Linked DNA regions of Homo sapiens. The protein of the gene in region 2 interacts with the protein of the main gene of each other region in a pairwise test. Each region holds a gene or a part of one and is shown on either strand. Other genes may lie near its edges. The genes, in order: KIF2C and ZNF566.

The links.
Region 1: the proteins of ZNF566 (region 2) and KIF2C interact in a two-hybrid assay, tested with the Homo sapiens proteins (one large-scale study listed by BioGRID and IntAct).

What each region holds. Positions count from the first base shown.
Region 1 is NC_000001.11:44,753,022-44,756,840, forward strand, and holds part of KIF2C (kinesin-like protein KIF2C), read left to right. Parts: intron 1-110; coding exon 111-233; intron 234-711; coding exon 712-812; intron 813-1,728; coding exon 1,729-1,824; intron 1,825-2,907; coding exon 2,908-2,962; intron 2,963-3,053; coding exon 3,054-3,216; intron 3,217-3,819. UniProt on the Homo sapiens protein: In complex with KIF18B, constitutes the major microtubule plus-end depolymerizing activity in mitotic cells. Regulates the turnover of microtubules at the kinetochore and functions in chromosome segregation during mitosis.
Region 2 is NC_000019.10:36,475,870-36,479,688, forward strand, and holds part of ZNF566 (zinc finger protein 566), read right to left. Parts: intron 748-3,819; 5' UTR 689-747; coding exon 680-688; intron 1-679. UniProt on the Homo sapiens protein: May be involved in transcriptional regulation.

The DNA.
Region 1 (3,819 bases), on a different chromosome or scaffold from region 2:
CTTACCGAGCAGGCAGGTCGCTCTCCCGGCCCATAACCAGGGCCATGGGCTCAGGTGAGATGCCTGTGGTATACTTGCCTGCTTCTCCAGTGACTCTTGTTCCCCTACAGCTGCCCCCACTAGGCCTTCCTGCCCTGCAGTGGCTGAAATACCATTGAGGATGGTCAGCGAGGAGATGGAAGAGCAAGTCCATTCCATCCGAGGCAGCTCTTCTGCAAACCCTGTGAACTCAGGTAGACACACTGAGCTGTCTGCTGTTCTGCTTCTAGTGAGGCACAGATAGTTTACATCCTGTCCTAAACCTGGCCTACCTTGGCACCTGAGTTCAAGCCCTGTTTGTCACGTGGGGGCATGTTTTCCTCTGGCCATGGAATCAGTCTTTCATTATCAAGACAAAACAAGAACTGTTTCACTTCTGTGGTTGTTGAGAAAGTAGCCAAGATGCATAGGAAGAGCTTGGGTTAGAACTGGAGTGCAGTTATCACTATTTGACTTCATATTGGCCAGGCCACTACTTTGTGGACTTGTCCATCCCGAGAGTCACATCTATTACTTCTTTTTGCATATAGTGATTTAAGAGTAAGGATCTAGAGAAGGCCTCTCCCTGGGAAAGGCCCAGTACTCAGTAAATAGCCAGAGAAGAGTAGGCTGGCTTAAACTGGTAACAGAGTGGGCTTCCTTTTTTTTTCTTTTTTTTTTATGTTTTCATAGTTCGGAGGAAATCATGTCTTGTGAAGGAAGTGGAAAAAATGAAGAACAAGCGAGAAGAGAAGAAGGCCCAGAACTCTGAAATGAGAATGAAGAGAGCTCAGGTACCTTTCTTGGGAGACTAGGGTAAGGGTTTTTGGACAGGTGTCCTTAACCGAAACTCTACGGGCAACAGAGATACAGTTGGGCCCCAGCATTTCTGAGGCTCCAGTTCTTGAGGCCCCAATTCTTTTTTTTTTTTTTTTTTTTTTTTTTTGCTCTGTTGCCCTGGCTGGAGTGCAGTGGTGTGATCTCGGCTCACTGCAACCTCCACCTCTGGGTTCAAGTGATTCTTGGGCCTCAGCCTCCCAAGTAGCTGGGATTACAGGCATGTGCCGCTAATTTTTTGTATTTTTAGTAGAGACAGAGTTTCGCTATTTTGCCCAGGCTGGTCTGGAATGCTTGGCCTTCCAAAGTGCTGGGATTGTAGGCATGAGCTGTTGCGCCTGGCCTCTGACGCTCCAATTCTGATATCCAGGAAATTTAACTGGTTTATCAGGATTCAGAGAACAAATAATTCAGAAATGTTTCTGAAGGCCCTCAGATGAGGAACATTTCATGCTGACTGTCTAGTAAGCAAGCCCATCACATGCTCACATGGCGTGATGGCCAGAGGGGCTGCAGGGCACAATTGGTCTGCTCTCTCCTATCCTCCCCCAAGTTGTACGTATTTGGAGGGCAGGGACTGCAGTACAGTCCCCTTATTTGGGTTCATTGCTTCTGGGAAGCCCGATCTGCTGTGCCTCCTAAAATGTGGAACTGGCCCTAGTTCCAGTTCCTAGCGTGCTTTGGCGTATGCTTAGGCCCCTCTGCCAATCTCTTCCCCAGTGCTTTGTACCTGGCTTCTCAACCCAGAGCCAGGGCAGGGACTTTGACAACTATGAAGGGTGGTGAGCAAAGAGCTGTTGCTGCTGCCGCATAGGGGTCTGAGAGCACTTATATCTTAACAGTCTGCCCTTTTTCACTCTCGTCTCAAACCAGGAGTATGACAGTAGTTTTCCAAACTGGGAATTTGCCCGAATGATTAAAGAATTTCGGGCTACTTTGGAATGTCATCCACTTACTATGACTGATCCTGTAAGTACATCCAAAGAACTTCTCTTTCTTAAGTGTACAATTGAGAGACAGAAAACTTCTCTTTACAGGAATGAGGGCATGCAGGAATCTTTACTCACCTTTGAGGGTTTTATTATTATTTTTTTTTGAGATGGGGTCTCACTCTGTCACCCAGGCTGGAGTGCAGTGGTACGATCTTGGATCACTGCAACCTCCACTTCCCTGGGCTTGAGTGATCCTCCCCACCTCATCCTCCCAGGTAGCTGGGACCATAGATGCATTCCACCGCACCCTACTGATTTTTTGTATTTTTGGTAGAGACAGGGTTTCACCATGTTGCCCAGGCCAATCTGGAACTTCTGGGTTCAAGGAATCCGCCTACCTTGACTTCCCAAAGTGCTGGGATTACAGGTGTAAGCTACTGTGCCTGGCTGAGGTTATTTTATTTTACTTTTTTTTGAGACAGAGTCTCGCTCTGTCGCCCAGGCTGGAGTGCAATGGCATGGTCTTGGCTCACTGCAGCCTCCACCTCCCAGGTTTAAGTGATTCTCCTGCCTCAGCCTCCCCAGTAGCTGGGATTACAGGCATGTGCCACCACGCCTAGGTAATTTTTGTATTTTTAGTAGAGATGGGGTTTTACCATGTTGGTCAGGCTGGTGTCGAACTCCTGACCTCGTGATCTGCCCACCTCAGCCTCCCAAAGTGCTGGGATTACAGGCGTGAGCCACCATGCCCAGCCGAGGTTATTTTTTAATATCCTTTGGTGGGCTGAAGCTAGTGAGGCCCACATGGGGAGGGGTCTGATCTTTATAAACTGGGTTCCACCCCCATACCATAGGTTGGCTAGATTCCTGCATTAGTAAAAATCATGAAAGTAGTGCTGAAACTCTTGTAGGCAGCAGAGTGAGAAAAATGGGAACAAAATCCAGTGCTCCCTTCTTGTGCTCTGGAGTATCTAATGGAGGATGCAGGGGTCCTAGTGTTAGATCTTGGCCTCTGACTGGGCCAGACATGGGATTGGAAGGGGTGGGAGTTCTGGACAAGCTCGCTTTTGAAATTGCTCTGACCCTTTGCTGTTGGTTGCCTCCTCTCATCCGCTTGCAGATCGAAGAGCACAGAATATGTGTCTGTGTTAGGAAACGCCCACTGAATAAGCAAGGTAAGTCCTGTTCAGTCAGGAAGAGGCTTCAGACTGACTAATGGGCCTTCTGTTTCCAGGGAGCACCCCCTGAAATACTCTCCTTCTGCAGAATTGGCCAAGAAAGAAATTGATGTGATTTCCATTCCTAGCAAGTGTCTCCTCTTGGTACATGAACCCAAGTTGAAAGTGGACTTAACAAAGTATCTGGAGAACCAAGCATTCTGCTTTGACTTTGCATTTGATGAAACAGCTTCGAATGAAGTTGTCTACAGGTTAGTCCCTTGCATCCATTTTTCCCTCCTTGTGCCCTTCCATCCCCTTTTTTTGTGGGACATCGTGGTAACACTACTCACAGACGTGCTGAATTCTGAGGCTCTTCCTCGCTTCTTGTGTTTTCTTTGGGTCACACCCTTTGGCAGCTTAGTGGCCCATCCTTGAGTGGATACTGAATGAGGTATCACCCGTTACGTGCTGAGGCAGGGCTGGCCAGGCTCCAGGGGTTCTTCTGTGCCTTATGCAGCCACACCATTGCCCACTGGGGTTCACAGATTTGGGGAACTCCAGATCTGCTCTATCTGCTTTTTTTTTTTTTTTTTTTTTTTTTGAGACGGAGTTTTGCTCTTGTTGCCCAGACTGGAATGCAGGGGCACAATCTCGGCTCACTGCAACCTCCGCCTCCCAGGTTCCAGCGATTCTCTTGCCTCAGCCTCCCACATAGCTGGGATTACAGGCGCCTGCCATCACACCTGGCTAATTTTGTATTTTTAGTAGAAACAGGGTTTCGCCCTGTTGGTCAGGCTGGTCTCAAACTCCTGACCTCAGGTGATCCGCTCGCCTTGGCCTCCCAAAGTGCTGGGATTAAAGGTGTGAGCCAC
Region 2 (3,819 bases):
AATCTCTTTATGGAAAGAAAGAAATAAGTATTCTTGATGAAACTGATAGGGGATTTTCTGATGGACATTAATCTAAATTAAAACTTCTTCAGAGAAATTTGTTATTCAACCACTTGGCTGACTAACAGTTAACAGTGAATTAATATAAATTTTTTTCTGGGCACAGTGGCTCATGCTTATAATCCCAGCTCTTTGGGAGGCTGAGGCGGGTGGATAACTTGAGGTCAGGAATTCGAGGCCAGCCTGGACAACATGGCAAAAACTCATCTCTACTAAAAATACAAAAATTAGCTGGGTGTGGTTGTGGGCGCCTGTAATCCCAGCTACTCAGGAGGCTGAAGTAGGAGAATCACTTGAACCCTGGAGGCAGAGGTTGCAGTAAGCCAAGATTGTGCCACTGTACTCCAGCCTAGAAGACAGAGCGAGACTCCATCTCGAAAAAAAAAAAAAAAGGGTAAATTTTCTAACAATGATTATGTAATCAATTCTTTTTTTTTCTATGAATTGGCCTGTTAGAGATCCTTTCCTTTACAGCAAAATTCTGACATTGCTCATAACCAAACTTTTTGAAAGGTGTTGTTTTTCTAACATCAAAAAGCATCATCATGAGGAAAGCAAATGTTTACAGTTACTAGAAGTAAAAATCACTCTATCTGAGCAAAAGGAAACAGTATCTCACCTGAGCCATGGCTCTGATATTTGTAGAAAAGGACCTTCTCTTGGCTCTTCTTTTGGAGAAGGGTAGAGCTGGGAGAGGCAAAAGAAGATAGATAAGACCCCACTTTCCTCACAGCTCCTGGCCCAGAATGATCATTTTCCTTCTGTTCATGCTTCAGAAATGCTTGTGGGGTATCAGTGAGGAGAATGGGCAAATGTCTCTATCATCCCTAGCTTCAAAGATACCAGGCTGTAACTGGAGCAGGATGGATTAGGGCAACTCAATATGGCTTGGAGAATATATGTTTATATACACACACATACATACATATAGATTTTTTTAACTCATATTATACACACTACTTATACACGTTGCTATTTTTACTTTACATATCTTGGAATGAAGTCCCAATTAGCACATATTGTGTTACATAACTGGTTTAATAGCTACATTGCAGTCCATTAAATGGATATAACTTAATTTTTTTTTTCTTTTCTTTTTGAGACAGAGTCTCACTCTGTCCCCCAGGCTGGAGTGCAGTGGTGCAATCTTGGCTCACTGCAACCTCCGCGTCCTGGGTTCAAGCGATTCTTCTGCCTCAGCCTCCCAAGTAGCTGGGACTACAGGCATGTGCCACCACGCCCGGCTAATTTTTTGTATTTTTAGTAGTGATGGGGTTTCACTCTGTTAGCCAGGATGGTCTCGATCTCCTGACCTCATGATCCGCCCGACTCCACCTCCCAATGTGCTAAGATTACAGGTATGAGCCACCGCGCCTGGCCATAACTTTATTTATTTAACCAATCTGTGGCCAATCATCATTTAGGCTTTTTCTAGTTTTTCACTGTAACAAACAATGCTGTAATAAATATCCTTGTGCATATGTCATTTTACCTGTATATGAGTTCTTCACAATTAATTCCTAAAAGTATAATTGCTCAGAGATTATACACATTTTAAGTTTGGATATACCTGGGTCAAACCAGTTTTCTGTTTCTGTTTTTTTTTTGTTTGTTTGTTTGTTTTTTTGAGACGGAGTCTTGCTCTGTCGCCCAGGCTGGAGTGCAATGGCGCGATCTTGGCTCACTGCAAGCTCCGCCTCCCAGGTTCACGCCATTCTCCTGCCTCAGCCTCCTAAGTAGCTGGGACTACAGGCTCCCGCCACCACGCCCGCCTAATTTTTGTATTTTTAGTAGAGACGGGTTTCACCATGTTGGCCAGGCTGGTCTCAAAATCCTGACCTTCCAAAGTGCTGGGATTATAAGCGTGAGACACCACACCCAGCCTTGTGTGTATTCTTTATAAACATCTTCACTTTAAGATGTTTAAAGTGCCCAAAAGAATAAGTTATACTAAAATACTAAAGGAAGACTACATTGTTTAAGGGGAAGAACTGAATTAGTGATCAATGTTTAAATGTTTAAGAAAATTTTGGTGTTTTGCTTATTAGCTACAAGAACTTAATAAACTTAAAATTATACAAACTATAAAGAGCACTATTATTCTCTATGCACCAAGCTTCTTGATCATTAAACAATTCATCAATTATTTCATATAAAACTGACCACCCAGAAAGTAGCACCATGTTATCAATTATCTAATGGCTTCCTCTACCCATAGGCACTCACTCACTGCATTTCCCCAGATGAATACCAAAGGAATACAAGTGTCTCTTCTTTAAAACCTAAATGCACGCTGATATTATTATTATTACTACTACATATTAAGCTCTTAGTATTCTTTTATCAACCAAATAGCCTATGATATATAATAGCCAGGCATTGTGCTAGATACTAAAGAGTCAAAAATAATCCAGAAAGATCTGGAAACAGAGTTCCTTCTTCTATATTCCTCATTTTAAGCCCTCCTTTCTGGTCTCTCCTCCTGGCCTTCCTCTGGTTAAAGGGATGTCTTCAAATGCTGTACCTTCCAAGCAGGATGGCATGAAACATTCCCACTTCAACAGCTCCATACCATGCTTGTTGCATTCTCAACACTCCTCATCTTTGCCCCAGAGGGCAGCCTCCCATGCTGAATTCTTACATCAGGGGATCTGCTCCTCTCTTTTAAATTCAGCCCTCATTAATGTAAAAAAAAAAAAAAAAAAGTCTCACGAAATAAGAAAGAAAACTTTCTCAACTTGATGAGTAGCATCTAAGAAATACCTACTGTTGGGAGAGACAGTTACCATGGGTCTCCACATTCTTAGGCGTCTTGCTGGGTATGCCTAGAATGCAAGATTCTAACTACTCATTTCCCAGGGTTATTTATGCAGCTGATAACCTTGAGAGTTGAGATAAGAGCACGAACAGTAGGGTTGCTTACTGCTGACTATAAAAGCAATGGATTATCCAGGCTCAGTGTTCCTCAGTGGCTATGCCCATGCACTGCATGAATAGCATCCATGTAGACCCACATGCTGTCCCCATGGGAGCTGAGAGAAATAGGAACTGATGAACACTGATGCCTACGCTGCTTGCTGTGCCATGAGTAATAAAGTCTTTGTCTCTGATCCAGGGGTCTCATGTTTTCTGCCAGCATTCATGAAACTAACAGGCTAATGTATGAGCTTGTATGTAGGAAAATATCAAATCCTAGAGCTAATGTTATAACTAATGTTGAAACACTGAAAAATGTCCCCCTGAATCCAGGAAAAAAAGAATAATGTGCATTATCATCATTTCTTTTTAACAATGTAATAAAGGGCTTGGCCAGTATAATAGGGCACGATGAAGAAATAAAAGGTATAAAGATTGGTAGGAAAGAAAGAAAACTATCATTATTCACAGATGATAAGTTGCAGACATAGAAAATCCTAAATAATAAATTCTTAAAATTAGCAAGTGAATTAAACAACATGGTCTCATATAGAGACAATATATAAAAATCAATTGCATTTCTAGTAACAAGTAATTGGAAAATTGTTTAAAATGTAAATACTATTCACAGTTTCCATAATAAACATCAAATACTCAGGTATAAAGCTATCAAAAATGTTACTAAAAATGACAAATTGGTAAGAGAAATTAAGGATCTTAACAAATGTCGACATATACCATATGTACTATAGATTGAATATTGATGTCAATTCTCCCAAAATGAACACAGTTTTTGTTTTTGTTTTTGAATCAGGGTCTTGCTTTGTTACCCAGGTCGGAGTG